Linked DNA regions of Homo sapiens: all the other regions are linked to region 1. Evidence: fine-mapped expression QTL. A gene starts in region 1. Each other region holds a variant in brackets. All regions are shown on one strand. Distances are between the middles of the regions.

Region 1 (10,827 bases):
TCTCTTCCCTCTTCCCTCCTCCAATTTATGGGTGTGGTGGTATCTAGGGTCTAAAATGGAGTTAAAAACCCATACATACTCAACCCCCTAGCCCCAACACACACACACACACACACACACACACACACACACACACACACCTAGTCAAGCTCCTTGCTCATAAAGATAGCAGCCTGAGGCACAACTAAATTTATAGGACTCAGCAGGCCTGCTAGAGCTTGTCTGGGATGGTGCGGTGCCAGAATTTCAAACCCTGGCCACATGTTTCTGGCCCATTGGCCATTCCTAAACCAAATTTAATCATGCCTCTGAATGTCTCAAGCAAGCAGTTTAGTTGCTGATTTTTATAAACTGGTTTATTTATACATACAGTGGCAAGGGTTATGGGGAACACAGGAGCATGTTCTCAATATCTATGACCAGAAAGAGACTCAACCTAAAGCTGGTAGTTTTCACAGTTGCCATTGCTATGAATATTAGTTAACCTTTATTGAGAGCTTTCTTTGTGCCAGACACTGTGCTTTGTAGGCTATAATCTCATTGGCGGCCAATCTAGGTTTTGTGGGGCTGGAAGCTTATACCACTTTGGGGACCATCTTTAAGAAAAACACAATGTTTGATCCCTTCTGGAGTCTTGGAAAGGGGCGTAAAGCTTAAGCTTCATTAATTTTACTGTAAAGCCACCTCTGCATCTTATTTAATCTTTTTGACAATTCTGTGAAGTAATATCTTTAAAAGAAATAGGTGAGGAAATGTTTAGAGATGTGAAGGCACTTGCCCAGGGTTGCACAGTTTGCAATCTAAATCATTGTTTTATCCCCGCAATCTCCTTCCAGGCTTTCTTCTCTCAGCTAACTAGATTTCCTTCTCCAAAATATCTTTATCCTTTGCTGGCAGTAACCTTAGTGCTGTCCTCTGGGACATGTGAGGAACTTAACACTGGTTCAACATTAGCGGAGGGGCAAAAGGTCTCCTTCTAGCTGAGCTCGCAGAAGGAATATGCTCTCTGGGGAACTGTGGAATAAGAAGAAAAGTGGGTGAGGAGGACAATTTTGTTCCCACTAGGTCTGAACTATGCCCTGGTTTTAGCTACATTTTTGTTGTTCCACAAACAACAGTGATTTAATGAATGCAGATTTTTCTGTTTGTATATTGCTTGACTTCCCTTTCATTCCCCAGCCCAGCTTTACCCAGCTGAGGTCCTAACTCCCCTCCCATCTACCCACCCTTCCTCACTTTGCCCTATTCTGCCCCACCTTCCTGTCAGGCCCAGCTTCTCAAGCCTTCTTTTTTTTATTGTTGTTGTTCTACTGGGAGCAGAGAGGGTGGAGTCCTCTTACTGAGGCTTTTCCTCCTCCCTTCCCTCCAGCCCTCAGACTGGGCTCCACCCTGGTAGTTTGTCAGCTGGCTTTCAGGAGGAGGAGAAGCGGGATGATGAAGAGGAGAAAGAGAAGAAGGGAAGAACAGCATATGTGGGCCCAGAATCGTGTCTGCATATTTCTCAGCTGCTTTTCATTAGGTTCCACACTTAATTTAACACTCCTCATCTGATTACTTGGATATATAGAGGAAAGCACAGGCTGCTTCTTCAAGCAGTCTCCCTCACGCATAAGGTGGGATGGAAGGAGTTGAAAATATCGCAGGTTGCTATTTGGTTCATGTTTATTCTAGCCAGCTAAAGAAAGGAGAGCCTGAGGTGTTTCCTAGACGGACAGGGAAATTTATCAAAACTTCTAGTTCCCCATACCTGCTCCCTCACACCCTTTCGTGTGACATAGACAACACCAACCACATGCTGATTATTTCTATGTGTCAAGAGTAAAAGAATATAAAGGCAAACTCCTGCCTTTGACATTAACTGTGGTCATGGGTTTCATAGTTCCCTGTGAACCATCTTTGGGTCCTAATTTGAGTGAGACAGAGGCCATCTCTAAAGGACTTGAAGGGGAAATGTGGACTAATAGGCTGTGTGCGTACAGTGAAATTGAGGGTTCATCCACTGGAGCCTCTTAGAATGGATGTTCTCATTCCACCGCCCCCCAACACCTAGCATTGTTCTTGATAAAGCACAGGTGCTCAATACATTTTATTGACTGAATAGATGAAAGAACAGATGGGAAAGGATCTTGGGTTTGTTTTTCCAAGTTTCAATAACTTCAAGTTTTCCAAAAACTGAATTTGCCATCTAAGGTCTAAGTTTTCCCCACAAATAAAGTTGAGGCAGTATTTCTAAAACAAACAAAAAGCTAGAGCTTAAAATAAATTTGTCAACAATAAAGACTTTTAATAAAATATAAACTGTTAAGCTATCTGTGTATGGATCGACCTTCTTGAAAAGCTATTTCAGACTGAAAAAGTAACTCGATGACCTTAAGGCACACCCACTGTATTCAGGGCTAGTAGTGGCTACTCTTTTCAAAATGTTACTTCAGCAATCTACTCATTTTCATCTGCACATCACAAAAATGCATTTATTATTGATATAAACTGCTTAATGTCTTTCACACACTTGAATCTAAGAGAAAACTTTTCAGCATTGCTCAAAACAGTGCTGTAGTGGTAAGAATCCTATATTGGATAATACTCCCCAAATTTTATACATTGAGAAACAAAGCCTCCAAGGAATAAAGTAAATTTTTTAAATGAAGGCATAGAGAGTTGTACACTTCTCTGTATGATTCCATCTCAATATATCTTACCTTGTAAGCTTGGCAGGGGTGCAGGTCGTGGTGAAGAGATATAGTGAGATAGAGAGTTATTTATGAAACCCCTACTACAGGGACATTCTTTTATGAAACAAATACATATGCATGTGTATTTATTTAACCTGTCACTAAGTTTCCACATCTGTAAAATGGGGATAGCAATGTCTACCCATAGGATTGTCAGAAGGATTCAATGAGTTAATATACATAAGAGGCTTACAACAGAGTTTAGTACATAGTTAATGCTCAATAACTATTATTATTGTTAATAATAATATAACTTGGCATCCAAGTTACAGAAATGAGATCGCCTGGTGCTTCAGCTCAAGGACTTTATAGTTTAGTAGGGGGAGGCAATTATACCAACAAATATGTGCCCCGAGGTAGAGAAGGGCACAGAGGAAGCAATGGTCAGTTTTGCCTGAAGAAATTAAGTAAGGAGGGGAGATGACCTTGAGTTAGTCCTTTCAAGAAAGTGGACAGATTCATTGGAAGGACATGCAAGAAAAAAAAAGGTGGACAGAGAGCTTAGTCTATTTCAGTCAGAGAAAGTAAAGCAACCCAAGGCATAGAGATTGGAAACAGCTTGGAATTCCCAGGGATTTGTAATCCAGGTAAAGCCCAGGAGAACAGCAAAATCTCTGCTGCTTGAGAGGCAGACAAAGGCCAGATCACAGCAGGTTAAAGGATGAGTTCCAGGGTGCTGCCTTGGATGTATGGTGGTGCCATTCAGGTAGTTGGTGAACTACAGGAGGAAGAACAGAGTGTTTTGGGGAAAGGAAGGTAGATGAGATGCACAGAAGACATTCAGGCAGAAATATCAACTAAGTAAGTAGACCTATGTGTTCGAAAGTACTGGGCTGAGGCCTTCCGTTTCCTTATTTTTTTAAATAAAGGGCACAGAGAATATAACAGTACCTAGTTCCCAGGGTTGTTATTGGGACTAAATGGGGAAATGTTGAATGTAAAAGCACCTGGCTCAGGGACTTGCCCATATTAGGTGCTGAATACATGGCAGATATTATTATTTCTCCTGTCTCTTTGCTCTTCCTCCCTCTGCTTTGTTTCTTGTCTCTCTTCTTTTTCCTCCTCTTTAAAAGAATTGTGGTAGGGAAGAGGCACTGAAAATGGGCTGTGGTTGCTTGTGACTTCCTGGCCTCCCATTAAAATGAGCTAGAGAGAGACTTTCAGGCAAGCGTAAAGAAATCCTGGAAACATGGCTCCTATCCTGTGGATTCAGCTTTACGGGGATCTTCGCCAATGCCTGGCTGAGAGGCGGTCTCAGGGGGTTGAGAACTCTATTCTTAGAGGTCTGGTATCTGGGAGACTGAGAAAGCCTTTCTTAAGTCTCCCTGCTGGGCCACGCTGTATTCACAGATCATCTTCAACTCCTTCTTCTTCCCCACCTACTCCTTCGCCCTCACCTCCTTGGCTTATCTCTTGCTAGAAAATGCACCAAGCTCCAATCTCCGTTCCTTTTAGCTTCCTCCCTGAGAAGACACTGTGACCTCGCTGTCCTTGTTCGTGTTACCATGGAGAGGTAGGAGGATAAATATCGCTTCCAGTTGTCAGCTTTTTTGTTTTCTCCTTTCCCTCTTAGACAGCCCCCAGCCCCAATCCCAGTACCCGTTTCACCACCCTCCCCTGGAGAATTAGCATAACCGGAGTAAATAGGTAATCAAGCAGTGTGCTTGCAAGCCTTAATTTTGGGACAGATAAGGAAGTGAAATTGATTGGAATTATACCTGCCGCTGCTGGAGGCTGAGGGAGGCGGCCGCCGGAGGCGAGGCCAGCTCTGTCGGCCCAGGGCCCCGCCCCACCCCCTCCTTCCTCCCTCCTCCTTCTCAGCCCCACCCTTCTCCACCTCCTCCCACTTTGCACTCTCCTCTAGCGGCCGCCTGTCCTTTTTAAGGAACTCCACCCTAGGTGGAGTCCTCACGATAGTCACACCTCTCCTTTGGGCCTAGCAGGGCCAGAGAAAGACGGAATCACTCTACCCACTCAGGTTGCCCAGAGAGCACTTTAGGTTCTGACTCGCGTGGGGCGCGAGGTACCCCGTGGGGCAGCTAGGTGCCTCCAAGAAACCCCGCCCCAGAGGACCCGCACGAGTTGCTGCCATTTTTCGCTGAAGCCCCTGCCCTGGGGCTGGTGTTCTTCTCTATGATTCTACCAATCGTCGGCATTTTTTTCCTCCCTTCTTTCTTTTTAGGAAGGCGCTGGGGTGTGCGGCGGCAACGGCGGCGGTGAAGGGATCCTCTTGTGGTATCTCCTCGTGGGTTCCTGTCTTGAAGGATTTCTTCTCCGCCTCAACTTTATGTTCAAGTAGCGCTTTGGGGGTTGGGTTGGTTTTCATAGCCCCCACCCCCGGCCCTCTCCTTTTAAAGGGTGTGTGGAGTTCAGAGGATGGGTGGAGAGCGGGCTTGGCCGGAACTGAATTGGTAGAGGTAAAAGGGGAACGGAGGACCTTAAGCTCTGGCCACTTCGGCCCAGCGAACCCACTTTATTTTTGTCCAAGGAAAAGCTGCAGGGGGGAGGATTCTTTTTAGGAAGTCTACTCTGCCGGCCCCTGATTTTTGGGTTGGATGCTTGAGAGCTTTGTTTCCCTTGTTCCGAGAGTGGCCCAGCTGGGTCTGAATCGACTCCCTCCCCTTTCGACCCCCTCCTCATTTTCCAGCCCGGAGAAATAGGGGAGTGGGGGCCCAAGAACGAGAAGACGAGAACGCGTCGCCCTGCGCTATGTCAGAATGGGGCGGGTGTGAGGGGAACAGCTCTCTTGCGATCAGCTCAGGAGTATGAGCCTCCCGGAGGACGGCATGAGTTCTGGACACTTCAGGAGTCCTCAGCTAGTGACATGGTCGGTAAGTGACTCTGGGACTAATACCCACCCACTCCCACCTCTTTCGTCTAGATTCTATCCCCCTCCCAGTCCCCCTGCTCCCCCCACACACCCCACTTGGGGTTTCAGCAGTGGGGGCGGGAGCGGAAGGTTAAGAACACTATGTGGAATCAAATGAAACTCAAGGGAAAATGACTTTGCTAAAGGGCTGGGCAAAGAAAGGCCAAGAAGGAGAGGAGAGAGCTTGGTGGAAGAAGTGAAAGGGGGCAAGAATGGATGGATTTGTCTAGTCTAGTCTCCCCTGGCTCGGCACTCCCAATACTCCTTAAGCGGTAAGGATTGTCTTTGACTTAACCCCACACAGCCAAAGTCACAACCAGAGAGAACAGGATTCACAAGGCCAAAGCTCCCAGGTAACCCCCTGAAGCCATAGCGGGTACCTAGAGAAGCTTCTGAAAAGAAGGAGGAGGGGACAGTGGTTTAAGGTGCAAAGTTAGGCTATTGGAGGCACAGAGTGAGGCCTGGAAGCAGCTGCGGGGGAGGAGCTGCTTTGGGCGTGCCAGCTCTTTAAGGAGGGGCTGAGCTTGGTTGGAGAAGGAAGCCAGAGCCTAGGCTCTGCTCCGGCCCTTTAAGACGTGGCCAAGGCAGTTGGTTCGTCTGTGTAGGTGGAAGACTGACTGGGCCGAGTTGCTGTGATTGCTGAAGTGAATCCATTTGTTTAGCCACTTGGCGGAGCTGTCTTTTTGTGGGCTTTTTTTTTTAACCCTAAGAATTTGGGAAAAAATAAATCACATCCAAACAGGTGGCCAAAGGCACCATGTCTTATTTCTTTTGGTATTATATTCATCGTGAAGAAACGCATTTATTAAGCACCTGTCACCCAGTGTGGTAATAATTGAGCAAAAAGAATAATCTTTAAATTTGGATTTGAAACTGATGGAGATTGCCATGGTTTGGGGTAATCTGCTTTGAAACCCTAGTATCACCACTTATTAGCTGCATCACCCTGGGCCTTGCTTTTCTCTTCCATAGAATGCAGATTAATAATTCTATCTCAGTAGATACTCGGGTGGATGAAATATCTTGTGTATGTGGCAGAGGCTGCCACTTGTATCTTAGTTCAACTTCCCTTTTCTACTCAGTTTGGAACTATTTTTCTGGACCACTGCTGATAAAATTAGTGTTTTTCTGTCCTTAAAACACCTTCCAGATGTGGTAAAACGAAACTTAGGAAGACTGAATTAGTTTGTCCAAAGGCTGAGGCTAGAACACAGGTTTTATTTGCTTCTGATTTAACATTGTTTCCACCAGACTTCATCACTTCTGAAAGAAAGGGCTACTAGCCTGCCTTTTCTCTCATTCTTTGGGCAACTTAACCAGAATGATATAACCAACAGGACTTTTGGACAACAGAAACAAGTGATAGGTAAATGACCTCATCCCATTCTTCAGAGTTATGGGGAAGCCCTTGAGAGTTGTTGACCTTTGGTGACTGCTGGGGACACAGAGAATGGGTGGGGAGCAATGTCTTCAGGTAAGCCTGGAGGGCAGACAGGCAGAAAACATAGGAAGAGTAGAAATAATAACCTCAAAAGTAAAAATGACAGGTGCATCTATGTAGTCCACCCTCAAGACCAACTTACTTAATGGCTGTACCTTCAGAGCCCTCAGGAGCTATACATCCCTCTTGTTTAGACTTTTCAGGGCACATTGGAAATTGGGAAAAAAATAACCATGTAGCAGACTACCATCACCACTCTCATTGTTCTAATACATGCATTTCTGAGGTGGGGTTCTCATTGGCTAAGTGAATTCCAATAACCAAAGTAGCAAACAGAGCCTAGTCATTTTTGATCTTGCCAGATTGTCTGTGCCTGGTGCGGTGGGGGCAGTATATGATCTTCTAAGATCTAGCTTTACAATGCCATGATTTTGTGAATGAAGGAAAACTTAATTAGGATGATTGACATAGATGATCATCTAGTATGATTACCATCTTATTGTTAAGTAGAGTATGAATAAGGGAATAACATTGTAGTATTGGGCTCATTTGTTTATTCAAAGACAGTGTGAGATCATGTTTGGTATTCTTCCTGATTTTTTTTTTTTTTTTTGACACGGTGTTTCGCCCTTGTTGCCCAGGCTGGAGTGCAATGGCGTGATCTCGGCTTGCCGCAACCTTCGCCTCCCAGGTTCAAGTGATTCTCCTGCCTCAGCCTCCTGAGTAGCTGGGATTACAGGCATGCACCACCATACCTGGCTAATTTTGTATTTTTAGTGGAGACGGGGTTTCTCCATGTTGGTCAGGCTGGTCTCGAACTCCCAACCTCAGGTGATCCATCCACCTCAGCCTCCCAAAGTGCTGGGATTACAGGCATGAGCCACGTGCCCAACCTCTTCCTGATTTTTATATGCTAATGTTTACTATCCTCAACTGAGTTTCATCATTTAGCCTGTTTCCTCATCTCTAAAATGACATGATAATTTGTGATTATAAATAATGTAAGGAAAGCATTGAACTCAGTGCCTGATATCTAATATGTTTCATAAGTTGCGGTCTCATCATTTTTGTTATTTAAAAAAATTTGTTTTATTTAAATGCTGCTGTGTGTTTGCAGAAGTGGAATGTAGATTAGTGGACAGGAAGCTGGATTTAAATATATGAAAGGTGCTAGATGTTCTGTATAATATACTAAAAGATGTTATTTGTGTATTTAGACAAAATAGATGTGATGTGGGCAAACTAAGCTCTAGGATTATTAAGGAGCAATAACCTAACTCAAGAGCCCAATCCAGATATTTCAAATCACTAGCAATTTGACATTTTGTTGTAACCTCACACTCACCATTTCTAATATACAGCCCATCATCACCTCTGGACTCTTCACTCATTCCTCATTCAAGACTCTTCCTTTCACTTCCCTGGTTCTGCAACTTACTATGACCATAGTAATGGTGAACTTATTTAAACTCTGTACTTTAGTTGTCATATCTGTGCATTGGGGATAATAATAGACACTACCTCATAAGGTTGCTGTGAGGAATAAGTGTGTTAATTTTGTAAACACTTAGAAGGCGGCATGAAAGTGAAGCAGTGGGAAAATGTAGCTGTTGTGGTACTCATGTCCCTTTCCCCTCTTCCTCATTTTCTCATTTAATTAGATGCCAATGGCTGTTGTATTTTTTCCCCTTTGTATCTGGTATCTGTTTCTTTATTATTATTCTAACTGCCACCACCTTAATTTAGGCGAGACGTGCAAACAATTAGCCTACAGACCAACTAAAGCTCACACGTGTTTTGTTTTCCCTAAAATTTAAAAACTTTCAACTAAAACATGCATTTTCAATTGGTAATGCATTCCGCCTGGCTCAAAATTCAGTATTTACTAAAGGGTGCATGGTGAAAAAAGTCTCCCTCCTATTCCTGTTCTCTAGCCACCCATTTTGCCTCGCTGGAGGCAACTAATGTTATCTATTTATTAGGAATCTCTCCAGGGATATTTAGTGTATATCAAGCAATGAGTATGTTTGTGTGTGTGTGTGTGTGTGTGTGTGTGTGTGAATAACATTGTAGTATTGGGCTCATTTGTTTACTCAAAGATAATGTGAAATCATGTTTGGTTTTCTATAGATAGATAGATGGATATATATATATATATATATATGGTTCAGTATCTTCTGATTATTCAAAAGAAACTGGAATTCTAGGAATTTAAGTGAAATCTGATTTTGAAATACTGGTTATCAATCAACTTTTAAAAGTGTGGGACTAGGCAACTTGACATACTGACATGAACTGAATTGTGACCCCCCCATCCCCCCCAAAAAAATTCATACATTGAAGACCTAATACCTAAGCTTGTGACTGTATTTGGAGATAGGGCCTTTAGGAAAGAAATTAAGGTTAGATGAGCTCATATTATATATAATACATATATAATATTAGTATATATGTAAGTACCACAACAACTATATTTTCTCACTGCTTACTTCACTTTCATGCCTTCTTCTAAGTGTTTACAAAATTAACACACTTATTCTTCACTGCAACCTTATGAGGTAGTTTCTATTATATATATATGTGTGTGTGTGTGTGTGTTTGTGTGTGTGTGTGTATATATATATCCCCTTCACCTTTTATACACAGATAGTAACACATTCTGCATATTGTTCTCTACAACTTGCTTGTCTACTTAAAAATATACTTTGGAGATATTTTCATATATGCACATTTTTTAAATGCCTCATTCTTTTTTATGACTGCATAGGTTTTTACTATATGCATGAGCCACAAATTTTTAAACAGTTTTCTGTTGATTGATCTTTAAGTTATTTCCAAACTTTTGCAGTGTTATTTGTAATAACAATAAAAACTTTTGTAAGCAGTGCATTAGAGAGCTCAGGCTGCCATAACAAAATACCATTGACTGAGTGGCTTAAACAACAGAAATGTATTTTCTCACAGTTCTGGAGGCTGGGAGTCCATGATCAGGGTGCCAACATGGTCAGATTTTCATGAGGACTCTCTTTCTGACCTGTAGAAGGCCACCTTTTCACTTTGTACTCATGTGATCTTTGTACAAATGGGAGGAGAAAGAGTGAATTCTCTCTGGTGTGTCTTCTTAGAAAGACACTAATCCTATCAGATCAGAACCTCACCTTTATGAGCTCATTTAACCTTAATTTCTTTCCTAAAGGCCCTATCTTCAAATATAGTCACTAGGTTAGGTCTTCTACCTATTAATTTTTTTTTGGAGAGTGGACACAACACAAGTCAGTTCATAGCAGTGTGTCAAATTGCCTAGTCCCACACTTTTAAAAGTTGGTTGATTGCCAATATTTCAAAATCAGATTTCCCTTAAAATTCTAGAATTCTAGGCCGGGCGCAGTGGCTCATGCCTGTAATCCCAGGACTTTGGGAGGCCAAAGCAGGAGGATCACCTGTCAGCAGTTCGAAACCAGCTTGACCAACATGGTAAAACCCCATCTATATTAAAAATACAAAATTAGCCGGGTGTGGTGGTGCATGCCTGTAATCCCAGCTACTCAGGAACCTGAGACAGGAGAATCGATTGGACCTGGGAGGCGGAGGTTGCAGTGAGCCGAGATCACACCATTGCACTCCAGCTTGGGCAACAAGAGTGAAACTCCGTCTCAAAAGAAAACAAAAATTCTTCAATTCCAGTTTCTTTTGACTAATCAGAAGATACTGAACCAGCATTCTCTCTTGGCAATAATTGCCTAGAGTTGATGAGCCTCTCCCTCCCTCCCCTTTAAAACAGTACT
Region 2 (10,827 bases), 120 kb before region 1:
CAAATTGGTATTTTTTGGTTGTTATTTCTTCAAATATTCTTTCCACCCCATTCTCCCTTTTCTCCCTTTTGGACCTCCATAATGCACATGTTGGTATGCTTGAAGGTGTCCCACACAACCCTTAAGGTCTGTTTATTTTTTGTCATTCTTATTTTCTGTTAGCTCCTCAGATTTGGTAATTTACATTGTCCTATATTCAAGTTCACTAGTTCTTTCTTCTGCCAGTTCAAATATGCTTTGTATCCCCTCTAGTGAAATTTTCATTCAACTATTATACTTTTCAGTGTCAAAATTTTTATTTTAGTTCTTTTTGTAATGTGTTTTTATTGGTATTATGTTCAGAAATCCTTTTCCTGGTTTTCTGTAGCTTTTAATTTTTTTAAGGTTTTCTTTTTAACCTCTGTGAGCCTGTTTAAGCCAGTTGATGCAGCTGGACATGGTGGCTCATGCCTGTAATCCTAGCACTTTGGGAGGCCAAGGAGTGGGGATCACTTGAGGTCAGGAGTTCAAGACCAACCTGGCCAACATGGTGAAACCCCGTCTCTACTAAAAATACAAAAATTAGCTGGGCATGGTGGTACATGGCTGTAGTCCCAGCTACTCGAGGATGGCTTGAACCTTGGAGTCAGAGGTTGCAGTGAGCAGAGATTATGCCACTGCACTCCAGCCTGGGCGACAGAGCAAGACTCCATCTCAGAAAAAAAAAAAAAAAAGACAGTCTTTGTCTAGGAAGTTGAATGTCTAGACTTCTTTGTGGATAATTTTTGTTTATTTTTTCCTGTAAATAGGCCATACTTTCATGGTTTTTTTTTTTGTATGCCTTGTTTTTTGTTGAAAACTGGACATTTTAAATGTTATGTGGTAACTCTGAAAATAAGAGTTTTCTCCCCTCCCTAGGTTTGCTGTTGGTGCTTGTTATGAGCTGTGGGCTTTCATTTGTATAGTGACTTTTCCAAACTAATTTTTGCAAAATATAGAATTATTATTTTGTGTTGTTACTGAAGTCTCCATTTTACTATTTCAGTGGTCAGACAGTGACCTGGCAGGGATAGTTTTTTTTTTTTTTTTTTTTTTGTGATGTCTAGACAAAAAAATTAAAAAGGAGAAAAAAGAAAAAAAGAAATGAAAAAACACACAACACAAACACGCACACACACTGCTAGTCAAGTCTTTACAGATCGGTTTTGAATTTGAGAACTCCTTCAATGCTAATATGAATGTATATTCTGTTGTTTTTGGGTAGAGTGTGTGGAGTGTTCTGTAGATATATGTCAGGTCCCCTTCATCCAGAGCTGTATGAGGTGTCTGGTGACCTCTGTTGGGAGGTCTCACCCAGTCACGATGCAGGAGATCAAGGGCTTATTTAAGGAAGCAGTCTGGCCCCTTGGCTAAGCAGGTGAGCTGTGCTGGGGGGAATCCCACTCTTCTGGATTGTCCGGATTCCTCAGAGCTAGCAGGGGGACTGACTAAGTCCTCTGAATGGGAGACTGCGGCTGGCCCTACCCCCAGGGGCTCTGTCCCAGGGGGATCATAGTTCTGTCTGTAAATCCCTGGCTGGAGTTGCTAAAATTCCCGCAAGGAGGCCCCGCCCGGTTAGGAGGGATGGATCCGGGTCCCACCTATAGAAGCAGTCTGTCCATGATTGGTCACAGCTGCTGTGCTACACTGTGGGGAGTTCCTACTGATCCAAACCGCCCAGTCTCCTTGGCACCCACAGGGGATAAAGGCCTACTGGAGCCCCAGTGATGGCAGCCAACCCTTCCCCCCAGGAAGTCGGTCATCTTAGGCCATCTCCAGCGTGCTGCCCCTGGGCGCAATGTTAGCGGCCGCCAAGTGTCTGCACAGTTCTGTGCTTGGGACCCAAGGACCTCCTCTAGTTTTAGATATCGCTCTGCTGCGAACTTACTGGAATATCTTGCGCAAGTGCTTGTTTTTCTTTCTAAACTTCAGTGTTCTCATTTGTCAGATAAAGAGAGTTTGCAATTATATGACCTCTTGCAACTTTGATTTGTGGAATTCTATTATCCAGCAGGCAAAACAGTAGACATTGGGTGTGACTACCTGTGCCAAGAGGTGTGAAAAGTGGAATGACCGTCCTCATATTGCATATGGACATAGACATAGTTTTTTATATTGAATGCCTGGGCTAAATCAAATAACTTCCTTGTTCTTTAGTTTGCCTATCTGATATGAGAGCAGAATCAAGGACTAAGAAATATTTTAGTTAGTTGTTTTAGAAATCACATATTTCCCCAAGTTGCCTCAGGCAAAAGTGAAGGATATGTGGAGTGGTAGGAAAAAGCATTACAATTTTATACAGATCAAAGGTAGCATAATATAAAGAGTAACATAAAGAGTACTTAAATTGGCATCAGAAGCGTTGGCTTCCGTTTTACTTTTTACTCACTACGCTGACTTATATTGTGTGTGGTCTTTTCTCCACACTTCAGTTTGTCTCATCTATAAAATGAAAAAATTATACAACTCTTTGTTTCTTGTCAAATTTTAAAAAGTTTGAATAGTTATGGATTTCCTTGAATGTATACTACATATGGGAGGAATTTTCTATTTGTGGTAAGATTATGTTTTTCTCTTAAAATTATTTATTTATTTATTTATTTATTTTTTTGGCCAGGCACGCTGGCATGTGCCTGTAATGCTAGCTACTCTAGAGGCTGAGGCAGGAGGATTGTTTGAGCTCAGGAGTTTGAAACTAGTCTGGGCAACATAGTAAAACCCCATCACACACAAGAAATCATTTTTTAGGTAAGTCCATTTAAAAAATATATTAAGTAAAAAATAGTCAAAGTCATGAAGGGGAAGGTTAGATAGTCTCTGAATTCTTTTTCTGAGACTCAAGTCCTGATTTATCTCATTCTCAAAATGGAAGCCAACACATCTGGAAAGGAGCATCTGCTGAGGATTTTTGTTATTGAGTCTAGGTTTGGCAGTTGACAGCTAAAATTTCTTTAACATACTGGAAAACATGATCAAAGGAATCTTTATTCCCTATGCATTTTGGAGTGATGTTGTTCCCAGTTAATTAGTGATAGAAGTGGACCTTACCATTCACAGGTGTAGAACAAGCAAGCTGGGAGTGCCCTCAGGCCATGAGGGCAGGCATTATGTAGTAAAATATCTTTCAGTGCACCAGATATACCTTTAGTAAACTGATGTGGTACCCGGCTAAGCAGGATCGAAAGCTGATATTCCCATAATAATAATATCATTTAGCAAGTACTTACCTTGTGTCAAGCAAGTTTGTAAGAACTTTATATGGAATATCTCATTGAATATTCATGACAACTCTATAAAGTAAATACTGTTATTACCACTTTTTTCAGATGAGAAACCTGATACACAGAGCAAGTAAGTACCATACCTAAGGTCACAGAGCTAATAAAGAGAAGAGTTAGGCTTCAAGCATCTATCTTTTCTGTTCCATGTGAAAGCTATTCCATTACTGAATTCTCCCACTAAAGTTACCAGGTTCACTTTGTTAAATATGAATTCATCTAACTGATGGTCAGCTTTTGTATAGAACAGCATTTCTTCCCTGATTTGACTTTTTATTCTGTGCTTTCTTAGCTCTTTGCCTTGGGGCCCAGACTGCTTCTGCTCTAAAATTAAAGTTGTTACTACATGGCGTGAAACTGCTTTGGCAGTCTGAGGTCCAGCATCTGGCCAAAGAGATCCTGGCTGCAAGCCTGAATGCTCATATGGAGCTGTACCTGGCAGGAACAGGTGTGATGAGGAGGATCCAGCCCGGGATTCTGAGAGAAAGGCTGGATCTGTTGCAATATAGTATTTATGAGAGAGAAGGTAGCCTGATGGGATCCAATGAGAAGAATTGATGAAAGAGCTAGTGAAAAATAACTACCCTCATCTCCATTCAGTTGAGAGCTAATTCTGAAGTCTTTTCACCCTGGTGGCCTTTTCTGCCAGAAATCAGTGTTATAGCCAGAGGCCCAGAATTTGCAAGTTCCTGAAAAGGGCCTGGAAAGCTGGAGGAGGAATGGTCATGAGAGAAGATGGGCATCAGCTGGATGTGGGATTTTTTCCCCCAGCTTTATTGAGGTATACTTCAGAAATAAAATATTGTCTATATCATGGTATACAGTATGATGTTCTGATATATATATATATATATATATATATATATATAGTGAAATGATTCCCACAATCAAGATAATTAACATATCTATCACCTTACAGTTACCGTATTTTCTTTTTTTGTGTGTAGTGAGAACATTTAAGATCTACCCTCTTAGCAGATTTCATGTATACAATGCAATATCATTAACTATAGTCACCATGCTGTACCTTAGCTCACTAGGCATTTGAAATGTTCTGCCTTTAAAATACCTTAACAGTTCATAAACATTGTAACATGTTAGAACTCTTATCTATACTTTCTTTGGTGCAATATCATGCTTTAATAAATTCCTAACATGAGTTCTTGAGTGAACTTTCTAATAAGTTAGAACTCTTGGCCAGGCATGATGGCTCATGTCTGTAATCCCAGCTGTTTGGGAGACTGAGATGGGAGGATTACTTGATGCCAGAAGTTTGAGACCAGTCTGGCCAACACAGCAAGACCCCTATCTCTATTAATTTTAAAAAAGAAGGGAAAAAAAGTAGAACTCTCCAAGCCATGAAATACCTTGTGAGAACCAGAGACTTTGATATAACAGTCCTAACACATTTCAGTACAAGTAACTATCCTCCCATTTCAACTTCCCCCTTATATACATTTGAACTTGCTCATGAACATTAGCATGCTCCTTTTTGAAATCAAATCTATTCAACAAACATTCCCTGAGCATCTGCTCTATTGCAAGGCTTGTGCTGAGTGCTGAGCAGGAGATGCAAGTGCCTTAGACAAAATTGAGGTTTTGTATTCACTGAATTTTTGCATTCTGTGACAAAAGCATGATCCTGTCCTCATAGAATATATAGTCTACCCTGGCTGCTCTATTGTGCTCTATCATCTCTGGGGGAAAAAAAAACAGAAAGAACCTCAGTTTGCCATTGATTTCAGCTTATTCCTCAATCAGAACTGTTCATTAGGAACAGTGAAACAATTATTCTACATTCTTATTAAATATGCCACTTTCAGATACTCATATGTAAAATGTTAAATTGTTCTGAAGCAAGACAACTGCAGGACCAACACATTGGATCATGTTTTTGATTAACTGTCTTTTAGTGTTTCTTCAAATTCATTTATCTTTAACTGTTTAATCTAATCCTTGTGTCAGTGTGGGGCAGCAGTGAAGTCAGACTGCCTAAATTTAAGTGCTAACCTCTGCACCTCTGTTTTAGTCCATTGAGCTGCTAGGACAAAGTACCATAGATTGGGTGGCTTATAAACAACAGAAATTTATTTCTCATGGTTCTGGAGGCTGGGAAGTCTAAAATCAGGGTGCCAGAATATTGGGTTTCTGGTGAGGGCCCACTTCCTGGTCCTGGTATGGCAGAAGGGGCAAGCAACCTCTCTAAGGCCTCTTTTATAAGGGTGCTAATTCCATTCCGTGAGGGCAGAGCCCTCATGAAATAATCACCTCCCAAATTTTCTACCTCCTAATGCCATCAGCTTGGGACTTAGGATTTCAACATAAGAATGAGGGCAGGAAGGGGGGACAAAAATCAGACTATAGCAATTCCTAATTGTATGACCTTAGACAGTTAACATTTCTCATACTCAGTTTACCTACCCCACAGGGCTGTTGTGAGTTGCAGAGGAGCTAATGTGTGTGTATATATATAAAGCACTTAATACAATATCTGGCACCTATTGCTCAATATAAGTCAGCTATTACTGTTAATATGCGCTATGAGAATGGAGTTGGTGAATTCCATTAGGCCATAAACAACTCAGAAAGTCAGATAAACCTTAAATGGTCTGAAATAGAAGTTATAAATACTTATCATTACTATTTGTATTATTCTTAAGTACATTTTATGTATCGATTTCTAAGGCCCTCACAGTCTTATTTTCACTTGTTTACTACAAT[G/A]TTTGTATGAGATAGGTAGAGTGGAGATTCTGACCTGAGTTAACTGAGGCCTAAAGAGACTAGATGATTTGTTTAGGGTCACACTTGAAAGCCTAAGTCTCCTAACTCTTAATTTCAAATCCTTCCACTAGATTTTAGATTTGCACTAAAATCTCTTAGTTTTTAGTGCAAATGTTATTGTAATTTAATCATCAATAAACTATAATGGAAAAACTTCTTCTGGGTGATAAAATTTTGCCAATAATAATGTTCTTCCTTCTGGTTACATAACGCAAGCTTTTTCTGAAGCAGTATACAGCTCTGCTGGTCTGAAGTTTCTAATTTAGATTGTTTTTGATTGTATTTATATATTCATTTGTTGTATATATGTATATTTCAGTCACAAACTTTATATAGTTCACATAGGCTCATAGTTGGGAGGAGGAAGGGCAGGATGTAGGAAGTCTCAAATAGGAGGAAATTCCTGGAGAAGGTGTAGATAGAGAGAATGTTGTATGTAACTCTGTTTTGCAGGACCCAGGATAGCTTTTCTTAAATCTGTGAGGGATTATCTTATCTGAGCCATGGAATCAAAAGTATTTGTCATAGTTTGAAGAGAGGAGGCCTGTATGTGAAAGACAGAAGGAAGAGAAGTTAAAGAGACTGATCTACTTCCCACAGAGCCTTCTTTCCTCCTACTGGGGTCCGCTTTGACAGAAGAGAGCTTTTATTTCCTTTGCTAAAGTGGGAAAAGGAGGAAGAGGGTCATGGTGGGAGAATGAAAAGGTTGCCTCTGTCTTTGCTGCCTGATCCCCAAAGAGCCTAATGGGAGAGCTGAGGAGGCATCCCAGGGGAGGCCAGCTGAAGCAAGCTGGCTGTGACAGAGCAATCATCACACCAGGTTCCGCTTATTATTATTTTTTGAGACAGAGTCTCCTTCTGTCACCCAGGCTGGAGTGCAGTGGCGTGATCTTGGCTCATTGCAACCTCTGCCTTCTGGGTTCAAGCGATTCTCCCGTCTCAGCCTCCCAAGTAGCTGGGACTAGAGGCGCATGCCACCATGCCTGGCTACTTTTTGTTTTTAGTAGAGACGAGGTTTCACCATATTGGCCAGGCTGGTCTCGAACTCCTGACCTCATGATCCACCCGCCTTTGCCTCCCAAAGTGCTAGGATTACAGGTGTGAGCCACCGCGCCTGGCCTATTTTTAGTGATTTTAAAAAAACTTTAGGTTTTGGGGTTGTTTTGTTGTTGTTTTAACGTAGTCTAGTTTCTGTAGGCTGACTAGTTTCTCAGTTACAGAAGGGGCTGACTTCTCCAGTGTGCCTGCAAGCAGAAGAATGGGTTGTGCAAGTTTAGGTCTGGATCTGCATAAGGTAGGAGCCATAAGGTAGTACCCAAGTATTCTTTGGGTACTAGAAAATTTGGAAGTCCACGTAGTTGATGGTTACTCCATTTCGGCCCTTTTACACTAGCGGAGGGTGTTTAGAAAGGCTATATATATATATATTATCCTTAGTTTTTAGTTTAAAAGTATCTTTGGAAACTTTACTTTTAACTAATCTGGAATCTACAATGTAAGTCCCACAGTATGCTTGCAGTGCAAATAGAGCTCCAAAACTAGTCTTTTAGTCTCCTACTTTTTTTCCAACCCAACTTACCTAAGCTCTTCCGATGTGGGAATTCTGGATGCCACCACTGCCTTGTCTCCTTTTTCTTATGCCACCCAATCCGAACCCTGATGCTAACAGTGCCCAGCTTTAGGTAGAATGTCCAGGGACTTCAAGCTACAGCCCTCTTGAAGGCTTAGGATTTCATTTTTCAGCTTTGGTAATACAGGAAATTTTCCCTGAGTTTTTTCGACTTTTAAACAAACACTATTTCCCACTATTCAGCTGACCTTTGTGCAGTGGCTAAGCTCTCCCTTAAGGAAGAGACCATTCCAGGCAGCTGGCCAGGTGTCCAACTATTTGTCTGTGCTCTTGGTTCCTGCATGAAGGGCTCAAAAGAGAGATGAAAGAGAAAAATGTCCCCAGCCTGAATGGCTTTACCCCATTTCCTCCATTTATACCAGCTCTCCAGAAATTCCCATGGTCTCTTAGGCCTTGGGATGAGTGTTATTGCTAGCTCCAGAAACATGCTTTTGGTCATCCCTTCCTGCTGCCACTCACTCACCCACCACCTAGGGCCTTTCCCTCTTCTTTTGTATGAAGGTGAGAGAAAAAGAGAATATGCCCCACCTCCTCCCCTTTGAGGCTCAAGGAAGCATAAATTCTGGGTTTTAGAGGGCATGTTTCCAAGTGAGGGTGAGAGTTTGACCTTTTTCATTCTTTCTCAAGTAATCCTGCTAGCTTCTGAGCAGGGTGACTGTAGCATGCCCTGGACCTAAAGAAAACACTAAATTCCGGGCCGAACACAGTGGCTCACGCCTGTAATCCCAGCACTTTTGGAGGCCAAGGTGGGCAGATCACGAGGTCAGGAGATTGAGACCATCCTGGCTAACACAGTGAAACCCCGTCTCTACTGAAAATACAAAAAATTAGCCGGACGTGGTGGCGGGCACCTGTAGTCCCTGCTATTCGGGAGGCTGAGGCAGGAGAATGGCGTGAACCCGGGAGGCGGAGCTTGCAGTGAGCCGAGATCCCGCCACTGCACTCCAGCCTGGGCCACAGAGCGAGACTCCGTCTCAAAAAAAAAAAAAAAAAAAGGAAAACACTAAATTCAGACACCACACACATAAGGCTTCCTGCCTATGACTGTGAAAGGGATAATCAAGAAAGGAAAAGATAAAGGGCAAAGGAAGGAGAAAGGATGGAGAGAAGGGCTGGAAAGGAAGAGGTTGGAGAAAGAATAGCCTGCAGTTAGAGAAAAGGGAGAAAAGTGAAGAAAGGGGAGAGGAAAGAGAACGTTTCTGAGTGGGCAGGACTGACTTGTCTATTGGCATTATTTATTGCTTTTGGACTTATATCCTGACTCCTTTAGTTTTCACGTGGCTGTAATTTTATCAGACTGCCCTGAAAGCTCAGTTCTTCTGACCCGGAAATTCTTTTCCCAAAGACAGAGAAGAATTGTGATTTATCTTTTCATGTTTCTGCCTTCTTCAGCTTTTCTTTAGCATCCCAGTAGGATGATTCTTGGAGAAAAGCCACATGGCCCATGTTGGCTGAACTTTAGATTCAAATAAAGGCTACTTGCCACAGCCAGGGCCTGATGGTTTTCATTATTGCCACAGTACCTATGTAAGTTTGATGTGACTTATCATATACTTCAGAAAGTAGTTGATAGTCCTTAGTAACTATGGTCATAAATAGAAAGGTCCTTATTTGAAGGAAACACTCCTACTTAATCCCAGGAAAAATCATTTCCAACTGTGTGTGTGTCTTTATTGTGCAAACCCTTGCACTTAGTAGATACTCAATAAACATTTATGGAATCAGTATCTACATCTGCAAAAATTGGGTGATAGTTTTTTCTCTGAACATGTTTTGAGTAAAATTTCATAATTTTTGTTATCATTAAGGTTGTCATTGCTTGATTATTCTCTACTCCTTATTAACTGAAATGATAATAAAGCCATAAAGGTTTATGAAACACTCACTAGGACATTAATAAAATTTGTTTTGTGCCCTGCCTTGTGGTATGGGCTGTGGGAGGGGTGAAAAAGAATACTCAATGACAGTTAATGGTCTATTTGAGGAGGTAAGACTGACATATATGAAAAAAACAAAATGTGAACAAATTATACTTGGAAGTCAACATGCCAAAGTGAAAAAGTTTGGGAATGTGCCAAATCTGGATTCCAATCATGGCCCCACTACTTATCAGCTGAGTATCTTTGGATGAGTGATTTAACCTTTTTCAGCATCTGTTTATTCCTCTGTCAAAATGATGCTACCATAAAAATGGGAAATAAATGACATACAATATGCAAAATATATGATACTTGGTATGCATTCAATTATACTGATGATAGTATTAATAATACTGTTCTGATACTTTTGTACAAACCTACTTTAAGGAGAGATGAAGGAGTTTTTTCTGCTCTATGATAGTGGAACATTTCTAATGACTTCATGTGTTATTTTTTAATTAAAATATTAAGTACTTTTAAATAAGGGGGAGAAAAATTGAGGTTTATTATTGAAATTTTTCATTTGAGCTTCCTGCTTTAAGCCCTATTCACATGATAAATTTCTGTGTACCTATGCTTTCTTTTTCTTGTAATGTTACTCCCTGGAGTTGAACTTGCTTTATATATATATTTCATTTTTAATAGAAACGGGGTTTCACTATATTGCCTAGGCTGGTCTTGAACTCCTGGGCTCAAGTGATCCTCCTGCCGAGGCCTCCCAAATTGCTGGGACTACAGCTGTGAGCCACCATGCCCAGCCTTAACTTGGTTTTAAGACCTCTGATTTGCCTTGCCTCAATTACCTCCTTTCTTATTTTCTTTCCTTTGTTGACTCTCATACTCTGTTCTCCTAATTCTCCCCCTTTTCCACTCCCTGCCCACCCTGAAAGACACACACACACACAATAAGTGGGTGGAGTAAGAAGTCAACGGAGTTGGATATAAGCATTCCTGCTTTTCTGACATCTCCAGTGTCTTGGAGAACAAGGATTCTAGAATGAGGGCTCCTCATTATGCTTCCTTTCAACATTTTTTCTCTGTGTTACTTAAGCTTTCACCCCAAGCATGTTTGACAGAGAGCCAGTGCATTCCCCTTACTTTTTACAAAAATAAAAAAAGAAAGAAAAAGAAAGAAAGAAAGAAAAAGAAAGAAAGAAAGAAAGAAAGAAAGAGAAAGAAAGAAAGAAAAGAAAGAAAGAAA
Region 3 (10,827 bases), 170 kb before region 1:
CTGATCTTAGTTATTTCTTGTCTTCTGCTAGCTTTTGGATTTGTTTGCTCTTGCTTCTCTAGTTCTTTTAATTTTGATGTTAGGGTGTCAATTTTAGATCTTTCCTGCTTTCTCCTGTGGACATTTAGTGCTATAAATTTCCCTCCAAACACTGCTTTAGCTGTATCCCAGAGATTCTGGTAAGTTATGTCCTTGTTCTCATTGGTTTCGAAGAACTTATTTATTTCTGCCTTAATTTCGTTATTTACCAGCAGTCATTCAGGAGCAGGTTGTTCAGTTTCCATCTAGTTGTGTGGTTTTTAGTGAGTTTCTTAATCTTGAGTTCTAATTTGACTGCACTGTGGTCTGTCAGGCTGTTTGTCATGATTTCCATTCTTTTTCATTTACTGAGGAGTGTTTTACTTCCAATTATGTCATCAATTTTAGAATAAGTGCAATGTGGTGCTGAGAAGAATGTATATTCTGTTGATATGGCGTGGAGAGTTCTGTAGATGTCTATTAGGTCGGCTTGGTCCAGAGCTGAGTTCAAGTCCTGAATATTCTTACTTTTCTGTCTTGTTTACCTGTCTAATATTGATAGTGGGGTGTTAAAGTCACCTACTATTATTGTGTGGGAGTCTAAGTCTCTTTGTAGGTCTCTAAGAACTTGCTTTATGAATCTGGGTGCCCCTGTATTGGGTGCATATATATTTACGATAGTTACCTCTTCTTGTTGCATTGATCCCTTTACCATTATTTAATGTTCTTGGCCTTTTTTGATGTTTGTTGGTTTAAAGTCTGTTTTATCAGAGACCAGGATTGCAACCCCTGCTTTTTTTTTTTTTTTTTTTCTTTTTGGCTTGGTTAATCTTCTGTCCTTTTATTTTGAGCCTAGGTGTGTCTTTGCATGTGAGATGGGTCTCCTGAATACAGCACAGTGATGGGTCTTGACTCTTTATCCAATTTTCCAGTCTGTGTCTTTTAATTGAGGCATTCAGCCCGTTTACTTTTAAGGTTAATTTTGTTATGTGTGAATTTGATCCTGTCATTATGATGATAGCTGGTTATTTTGCTTGTTAGTTGATGCAGTTTCTTCATAGTGTCAATGGTCTTTACAATTTGGCAGGTTTTTATAGTGGCTGGTACCTTGTTTTTTGTTTGTGTTTTTGTCTTTGTTTTTCCTTGTTTAGTGTTTTCTTCAGGAGCTCTTGTAAGGTAGGCCTGGTGGTGACAAAATCTCTCAACATTTGCTTGTCCATAAAGGATTTTATTTCTCCTTGGCTTATGAAGCTTAGTTTGGCTGGTTATGAAATTCTGGATTGAAAATTCTTTTCTTTAAGAGTGTTAAATATTGGCCTCCACTCTCTTCTGGCTTGTAGGGTTTCTGCAGAGAGATCTGCTGTTAGTCTGATGGCCTTCTTTTTGTGGGTAACCACACCTTTCTCTCTGGCTGCCCTTAACTTTTTTTCCTTCATTTCACCCTTGGTGAATCTGATGATTCTTAAGGCGTAACTTTGTGGTGTTCTCTGTATTTCCTGAATTTGAATGTTGGCCTGTCTTGCTAGGTTGGGGAAGTTCTCCTGGATAATATCCAGGAGAGTGTTTTCCAACTTGGTTCCATTCTTTCAGTCACTTTCAGGTACAGCAATGAAACATAGATTTGGTCTTTTCACACAGTCCCATCTGTCTTGGAGGCTTTGTTTGCTCCTTTTCATTCTTTTTTTTCTAATCTTGTCTTCATGTTTTATTTCATTAAGTTGATCTTCAATCTCTGATATCCTTTCTTTTGCTTGATCGATTTGGCTATTGATACTTGTGTATGCTTCACGAAGTTCTCGTGCTGTGTTTTTCAGCTCCATCAGGTCAGTTATATTCTTCTCTAAACTGGTTATTCTAGTTAGCATTTCCTCTAACCTTGTTTCAAGATTCTTAGCTTTTTTGCATTGAGTTAGAACATGCTCCTTTAGCTCTGAGGAATTTGTTATTACCCACCTTCTGAAGCCTACTTCCTTCAATTCATCAAATTTATTGTCCATCCAGTTTTGTTCCTTTGCTGGTGAGGATTTTGGATCCTTTGTAGGAGAAGAGGCCTTTTGGTTTTTGGAATTTTCAGCCTTTTTGCACTGGTTTTTCCTCATCTTTGTGAATTTATCTGCCTTTGGTCTTTAGTGTTCGTGACCTTCAGATGAAGTTTCTGTGTGGTTGTTTTTTCTGTGGATGTTGATGCTATTCCTTTCTGTTGTTAGTTTTCCTTCTAACAGGCCCCTCTGCTGCAAGTCTGCTGGAGTTTGCTGGAGGTCCACTCTAGACCCTGTTTTCCTGGGTATTACCAGCAGAGGCTGCAGAACACAAAGATTGCTGCCTATTCCTTCCTCTGGAAGCTTTGTCCCAGAGGGGCACCCACCAGAAGGCAGCCAGAGCTCTCCTGTATGAGATGTCCCTGCTGGGAGGTGTGTCCCAGTCAGGAGACATGGGCGTCAGGGACCCACTTGAGGAGGCAGTCTGTCTCTTAGTGGAGGTCAAGTGCTGTGCTGGGAGATCCCCTGCTCTCTTCAGAGCTGGCAGGCAGGAATGTTTAAGTCCACTGAATCTGTGTTCACAGCCACCCCTTCTCCCAGGTGCTCTGTCTCAGGCAGATGGGAGTTTTATCTGTAAGTCCCTGACTGGGGCTGCTGTCTTTCAGAGATGCCCTGCCCAGAGCAGAGGAATCTAGAGAGACAGTATGGCTATGGCAGCTTCACCGAGCTGCAGTAGGCTCCCTATGTGTTCTAATAATGGTGGATACTATCCTTTCACTTCCAGGTTTATGACCTTCTATATATGTACATATATATCAATATATATATACACACACACATATATATAGAATGTGCATGTGTATATAATACATGTATGTGTATATATATGTATATACATATATACATGTGTGTGTATATATACATATATACATATATACGTATGTGTGTGTATATATATGTATATACATATATATGTGTGTGTGTGTATATATATATATATGCAGGATGCAGTCTTGTGTGGGTCTTCAAAATGGTGCCTTGTAGCTGCCTAGGACTCAGGAGGTATTATATTCTCCTGCTGAATTTATTATTTTATTATTGTGTAATACTTTTTGTCTTTTTGCCTTTTTTTTCTTTAAAGTCTGTTATTTAAGTACAGCTACTCCTGCTTGCTTTTGGTTTTCATTTCCATGGAACATTTTATTTCATCCCATTACTTTTACTAGATACGCATTTACATGTGAAGTGAGTTTCTTGTGAGCAGCATATAATTGGGTCATTTAAAAATTCATTCTGCCAGTCAATATCTTTTAAGTGGAGAATTTAACCTGCTTACATTCAAGCTTATTATTGATATGTCAGGACTTGCTTGTGTCATTTTATTAGTTGATTCCTCGTTGTTTTATATATTCTTTGTTTCTTTATTTTTCTCTATTTATCACTGGGGTTTGGTGATTTTCTGTAGTGGTACCATTTCAGTGCTTTCTTTTTATTATTTTTTGTGTTTCCTCTACCAGTGAGTTTTATATGTTTATGCGTTTTCATAATGGTGGCTATTGTCCTTTCACTTCCAGGTGTACGACTTTCTTAAGCATTTCTGGTAGGGGCATTCTAGTGGTGATAAACCCTCTCAGCTTTTGCCTTTCTGGGAAGGACTATTTCTCATCCATTTACGAAAAGTTCCTTTACTGGGTATAGCGTTGTTGGCTGGCAGTTTTTTTTCTTTCACCACTTGGAATATATTATCCAATTCTCTCCTGGCATGTAAGGTTTGCTGAGAATTTTGCTGTTAGTCTCATGAAAGTTCCTTTATATGCGCCTTTATGTGCATTTTTGGGGGTTTTTAGAATTCTCTCTTTGACTTTTTACAGTTTGACTGTAATGTGACTTGGGGAAGAAATTTTAGTTGTGTATATTTTGGAATTTCTGCTTATTATGTATTAGATATCTAAACATTTTGCTAGGCTTAGGAAGTTTACAGCTATTATTTTGTTAAATAGCTGTTCTATTTATTTTGTTTCCCCTTCACCTTCTGGGACATCACAATTTTGAATATTTAGTCACTTTATGGTGTCCCATATGTCCTGTTGACTTTCCTTATTCTTTTTAATTTTTTCCTGTTTTTTTCTGACTGGGTTATTTGAAAAGATCTGTCTTCAAGTTCTGAAATTCTGTTTGATTTAGCCTAGTTTTGAAACTTACAAATATATTTTTATTTCATTCAATGAATTAATTAGTTCCAGATTTTTTTATGATATCTATTTTTTGTAAATTTCTCATTAATATCTTAAATTGTTATTTAAAAATAATATCTGTTTTCTTGTATCTTTTTGAGATTTTTAATACCATTTTCAATTCTTTTTTAAGATTTCATAATTTTTTTTCATTGGATCTGTTGCTGGAAAGTTGTTGCATTCCTTTGGAGATGTTGTCTTTTCTTTGTTATATTTCTTGTGTCCTTATGTTGATATCTGTGTATCTAATGTACAAATAGCTTCTTTCAATTTTTTGAATTTATTTTCACAAAGATGGGTTTTTTTTAAAGATGGATTTATGTTGTTGGTTGGGTAGGGAACTTTGGGTTTGATTCTGGGTGTTTGCAGTAATATAGTCCTTGTATGAGTTATTTGACTGTAAACAGCAGTTATTGCTATGATTTCTTCAGTGGTTTATAGTGCAGTTGCTAATAGAGGCTGTTGTGATGTTTGTGTGTGGATGTGAATGCCAAGTATGCCTGTCTTCAGGCTTCCAATGTGGCAGCAGTGGATTTAGTGTGCCTAGTTTTGGGCCCCAATGACAGCAGGTCTAGGTAGGCTGATTTGTTGGACCCCAAACAGCTTGCTCAGGTACAGGCAGTTTCACCATTTGCCCAAGTGGGTGAGTGAGTCTTTGGGGCCTTGGGTAAAGGGTGTAGCATGAGTGATGGCAGTAATAAGGGCAGAACAACACTCTGGCTCCCAGGTGGTTTCCTCTAGTGTTGGTGGTTTCTGTGAT[A/G]TGCTGTGCACAAAAGTACTCAAGCTTGCAGTTTGTGTGGGTGGGTGCCAGCTGCAGTCGTGGCATGTTGGGTGTTCTTCAGTCTCCTAGGAGGAGTGCTCAGATGTCAAAGGTGATGAATGGGGCAGGGTGATTCCCAGGCCCCCAGATGTTGGCCTCAGGCTCTGCAGGGGCATAGTTGGGCCAGATGGGCCTGCTCTCAGGCCCCTCAGTGGTTCATGTGAGCACCGACTATGGTAGACAGGGGCCTGGATATGTGCAGTATGTGCAGGTTGGTGCAGCAGTAGTTTTGTTGCTTCCCTGATGCTCAGGAGGGTGAGGTTGCTTGCATTGGCAGCAGCACTAGGCATGCAGCTGGGGAGCATATACTTCAGCACCAGGTGATTTTTGCAAGCAGGGTAGCTTGTCTTCATTGCACTTGTACATGTGTGTTGGTCCTGCTACTGGGGGTAGCAGGCTCACTGTTAATGGTTCCTGCTTTAATCCTGTTGGCACTAGCCAGCAGTGGTACCTGGATGTGGGTGGAGGATATCAATTAGGCTCCAAGGATGTGAATATACAAAAACTGTTGAGACCTAAGGCAGGATGCAGTCTGATGGGGACTAGACCTTCCAAATGGTGCCTTGTAACTGCCTAGGACTCAGGAGGTGTTTGGGACACAGAGTGAGCTTCTTCTGTGGAGCAGTGTCACAATGTGTTCTCCAGGCCACTCCCTACATTAGTCTCCAGGCCTACAAGGGCCAAGGGGCTTTACAATGGTTAGGATTGCAGAAGATCATGCTGGGAATTTGGACTGCTGGCAGCCTTTCACTTTCCATTAACTGAAGATCCTTTCCAGGCTCCAAGCCAATTCTGACCAAGCAGACTACCTTGCTTCTCTCTCCTCCCTTGCCTTAAATGTTTTCTGTCTTTTTTCTGTTAAATTTCAGCATTCTGTCTTAGGTGATCTCTTCAAGATGATACTGTCTACTCACTAATTTGGTTTTGTGTGGTAGAAGCTTTAAGGTGGCTGACTAGAGGCATCCAGTACTCACGTCTTCCATTCGTCTTTGTGGAGTACGTGAGTACCAGATGCCTCTAGTCAGCCATCTTAAAGCTTCTTCCCAAAAAAATTTTGAAATCCCCTTGAACTCTTGTAGCCAATAGGTCAGGCCTATTTTTTTACATATCAGATTTTTGTTATTTTTCATTTGAATAGTGTCTAGGAACTCAGAATGGTTTTGGAAGCTTTTAATCTGAGTAATTGGGTCATTTTTACCTGCATGAGAGGCAGTGCCTAGATGGTAGACTAGAGGCAGCTCATGTGTGCTGTTCTCAAAGAAAGGAAACAAAAGGGCTAGTGAGCACTAACTCTGCAGGTTGATCTTCTGAGAAACCAGGTCAGGATCCATCAATGCAGCAGGGGAACACAGAGAGCAGAGGATCAAAGCTGGTCAACAGCCAGCCTGGACTCAGCAGAGAGCCAGGAGAACCTCTCTAATATGAGAAAGAGTGAGTGAGAGCACCTAGGGAGATTCACACTCCAACAGGGACCTGTGCAAGACTAGGAATGGGAGAATCCCCCTTCCCCCGTCCCCCTCCTACACTTCTAAGACTGAGGCAGAAAACTGTTCAGACTTTTTCACAGGCAACTCTCGAGTCCAAGGGGACTTCTACAAGCCTTGGGCCCTAGAAAACACCAGCACTTGCACCATAGCTCCAATAGAGGCCAAAGTGGCAGTATCTGGGAGCAGTAAGATTGCTTTACTTCCCCTTGCTGGAAGAGGCTCAGCACCAGCTTCTAGCCTAGCGGTCCTACTTTGGCTTGAATTCGGCCAGCTATTTCACCCACCTTGCCAATGGTAGCCAAAGTGGAAATGCCTGATATAGCCTTCAGCCTCATGGTCTCCCTTTTGTGTGAACTCAGCTTTAGGGTGAAGCCTCCTGATGTTCTAGGAGACATTCTGACAGCAGGGCACATGACCCCATCCAGCCACACCACTGATAGCCAGAATGTCAATGCTTGCTAGAGCTTCTGGCCTAGTGGTCTTGCTTTTTTGTGAACTCAGCTGGATGGTGCCACTTCCTGTTGTCCTGGAAAATACCCGGATGGCAGAGTGTGTGACCCCACCTGCCCTGCCACTGGAAGCCAGGTGGGCAACACCTGTTAGAGCTTCTGGCCCGACAGCCCACTTCTGTTTGAGCACAGTTAGAGGGTGCAGCTTCCTGTTTTACCAAGCAACACCTGGATGGCAGAGCACATGACCCCACCCGACTCTGCCACTGGAAACCAGGTGAGCAACACTTCCTAGAGCTTCCTGCTCAGTGGCCCTGATTCTGTGTGAACTCAGCTGGAGCACACAGCTTCCTGTTGTTTTGGTGAACAACCAAATTTTGGAGTGTATGATTCCACCCACTCGCACCACTGGCAACCAGGCAAGCAATGCCTGCTATAACTTTTGCCCCAACAGCTTCGTTTCTGTGTAAACTCAGCTAGAGGTCACAGCTTCCTGTTGTCCCAGGAAACACCTGGATTGCAGAATGTGTGACCCCACCCACCCCTGCCAATGGTAGCCAGGCAAGCAATGCATGCTAGAGCTTCCAGCACAGCAGCCCCGCTTCTGCGTGAACTCAGCTGGAGGACACAGCTTCATGTTGTCCCATGAAACATCCAAATGGCAGAGTACATGACCCTGCCTGCCCCCACCACTGATAGCCATGCAGGTAATGCTTGCTAGAGCTTATAGGCCAGCAGCCCTGCTTCTTTCTAAAGTCAGGTGGAAGTCCCAGCTTTGTTATCCTGGGAAACACCTGGTCAGCCATGCACATGACACTCCACCCACCCTGACCACTATTAATGAAGCAGGTAACACCTATTAGAGTTTCTAGCCCAGCAGCCTCACTTCTGTCTGAACTATGCTGGCATGCACAGCCTCCTGTTGTCCCAGGAACCACTCAGATGGCAGGAGAGGTGACCCCACCCACCCATGCCACTGACAGCCAAGTGGGCAATGCCTATTAGAACTTCTGGCTCAGCTGTCCTGCATCTGTGGGAACTCAGCTGGAGTGTGCAGCCACCTGTTGTCCTGAGAAACACCTGGATGGCAGGGTGCATGACCCCACTGATCTAATCCCTGCCACTGAGAGCCAGGAATGCAATGCCCACTAGAGCTTCTGACCCAGTGGCCCTGCTATTGTGTGAGCTCGGTTAGAGGGTGCAGCTTCCTGTTGTCCTGAGAAACACCCACCCTGCTGTCCCCCACTACTAGTAGCCAGGTGGGATATGTGTATTAGAGCTTCTGGCCCAGTAAGCCCGCTTCTGTGGAAACTCAGCCGATGGGCACAGCCTCCTTTTGTCCCAGGAGGTACCCAGACAGTAGGGATGGCATCCCCACCCACCCCCACTGCTGGTAGCCAGGTGAGTCATGCCTGATCGAGCTTCTGGCCCAGCAGTTCTACTTCTGCCTGAATTTGCTAAGGGGTGCAGCCCCCTATTGCCCTGGAAACACCCAGATGCCAGAGCAGTCAACTCCACCCACCCCCATCTCCTGTAGCCAGATGTGCCACATCCCCTAGAGCTTCCAGCCCAGCAGTCATGCCCGGCTTCCTGCCCAGCAGTCTTGCCCGGCTTCCTGCCCAGCGGTCTTGCCCAGCTTCCTGCCCAGCGGTCCTGCCCAGCAGTCCTGCTTCAGTGTGACGATTCCTCAAGGATCTAGAACCAGAAATACCATTTGACTGAGCAATCCCATTGCTGGGTATATACCCAAAGGATTATCAATCATTCTCCTATAAAGACACATGCACACATATGTTTATTGCAGCACTATTCACAATAGCAAAGACTTGGAGCCAACCCAAATGCCCATCAAAGATAGACTGGATAAAGAAAATGTGGCACATATACACCATGGAATACTATGCAGCCATAAAAAAGAATAAGTTCATGTTGTTTGCAGGGACATGGATGAAGCTGGAAGCCATCATTCTCAGCAAACTAACACAGGAACAGAAAACCAAACACAGCATGTTCTCACTCATTAGTGGGAGTTGAAAAAGAACACATGGACACAGGGAGGCAAACATTACACACTGGGGCCTGTCGGGGTGTTAGAGGGAAGGGAAGGGAGAGCATTTGGACAAATACCTAATGCATGTGGGGCTTAAAACCTAGATGATGGGTTGATAGGTGTAGCAAACCACCATGGCACATGTGTACCTATGTAACAAACCTGCACGTTCTGCACAGGTGTCCCAAATCTTAAAGTAAATTTTCTTAAAAAAAGAAAAAGAGAGAGAGAGAGTGTGGTACATATAAACCATGAAATACTATTCAGCCATCAAAAGGAAAGAGATCATATCCTTTGCAGGGCCATGGATGAAGCTGGAAGCCATCATCCTCAGCAAACTAACACAGGAACAGGAACCCAAACACTACATGTTCTCACTCATAGGTAGGAGTTGAACAATGAGAACACATGGACCCAGGGAGGGGAATAACACACACCATGGCCTGTTGAGTGGGGGCAAGGGGAAGAAACTTTGAGGACAGGTCAATAGGTGCAGCAAACCACCATTGCTCATGTTTACCTATGTAACAAACCAGCACGTTCTGCACATGTATCTTGGAACTATAAGTAAAATAATAAAAAAAGAACATGTGGTGGTTTTTAAATATCTGAATGTATCTAACTAAATACATTGGCTAAGTAAATATAAGGTAGTCACATGTAAGCCTGATGCTCATGTAAGAAACAGTATCCTATTATGGCACAGACTGTATTGGGAATATATGCATCATTTACTCTAATAGGAGACAGCTAATTTTATGTTCCTCTAGTATACAAACATCCTGTGAAGAGTGAAATAGTTTTTCAAAGCAGGCTGAAGTGCCACTGAAGAGAACAGACTGAGTATAATAGATAACCTAGATATTAGTGTCTTTCATATTGGCCATGGGATTGGCCAATAGCTCATAGGATTGTAATAACCTCAGCAGAAGCATTTTGATGTCATAAAGTCAAGGTCTAATTTTTCAAGACTGAATTTGAGATATGAAGGAAACTTAATTACCAGAAGGTAATTAAAGGTAATCTACCATTTGAAGTATTAAAAGACAAAAAAACTATTAAATTTTTATCAGCGTAATGAGGTAGAAGATTCAGCAATCAGCTAAGTTCAGAGTAGTTGCTATGGAGTGGGAAAAATGAGCTCTTTTATTTTCTTTAAGTGGCATAAGAAGATCACAGGGGTTCAAAATAATAGAAGGAATATAAAATAAATTATATTAGTGTTCTAGGAGGTATCAAAATGTAATTATAGACAAAACTATCAGTAAAGCAAAGAGACAAAAAAGGATGTTGAAGAATGAGAAAATTAATTTTGTTCATTGTCTTCGATAGAAGCTTTTCACTTCTGAAGTCAGCAGCTTGTGCAGGATTTTTAATAATCCTCAGTTTAAATTATTTTAGTGGAATAAAGTCTAGTAGTCATTTAAGTGAAGAAACATGAATCCCAGGATCAACACTAGAGTTTTACTGATATGTAAATGAATAAAACAGTACCTAATTTGGTCACTTCAATTGAAGCCCAACAACAGTTTTTCTTTGATGCCTTTTTCAGAAGACCAAATCTCCAGGATTGTGAATCAATCAGAGAATGTTTAGGTAAGAGTTTTGAAAATGTTCCTTGTGTTTGTTGTAAATAAAGCTGGAGATATCATTTGAGTAGTATGTATTATTCTGTCATTAGCCTGTAATAGACTAGAATACAGGATTGGAAGTGAAATTTCTCATGACACTGCATGAGACAGCCTGTTAATAACTCATAAGGAGATAACTTGTGGGTCCTTAAGAGGTAT

Evidence for each region. PIP is the estimated chance that this variant, and not a neighbour inherited with it, causes the effect.
Region 2: its variant is fine-mapped to the expression of KLF8 in whole blood (TOPMed, PIP above 0.99).
Region 3: its variant is fine-mapped to the expression of KLF8 in whole blood (TOPMed, PIP above 0.99). The same link has a PIP of 0.9 or more in blood mononuclear cells.

Annotation. Positions count from the first base shown.
Region 1 is chrX:56,227,779-56,238,605 of GRCh38, forward strand. It overlaps KLF8 (KLF transcription factor 8), which reads left to right and starts at 4,578. Exons shown (of 6, transcript NM_007250.5): 1 at 4,578-5,563. The coding sequence starts at 5,557.
Region 2 is chrX:56,112,503-56,123,329 of GRCh38, forward strand. The region is part of intron 1 of LOC124900486 (a long non-coding RNA gene); the gene reads left to right. It also overlaps a transcript of KLF8 not described here. Among named protein-coding and RNA genes, the nearest start is that of KLF8, 110 kb to the right of the region's middle. RefSeq lists an enhancer at 1,742-2,241. The variant G/A (reference allele first, on the strand shown) is at 6,018.
Region 3 is chrX:56,061,176-56,072,002 of GRCh38, forward strand. The region is part of intron 1 of LOC124900486 (a long non-coding RNA gene); the gene reads left to right. It also overlaps a transcript of KLF8 not described here. Among named protein-coding and RNA genes, the nearest start is that of KLF8, 170 kb to the right of the region's middle. RefSeq lists an enhancer at 5,089-5,348. The variant A/G (reference allele first, on the strand shown) is at 4,992.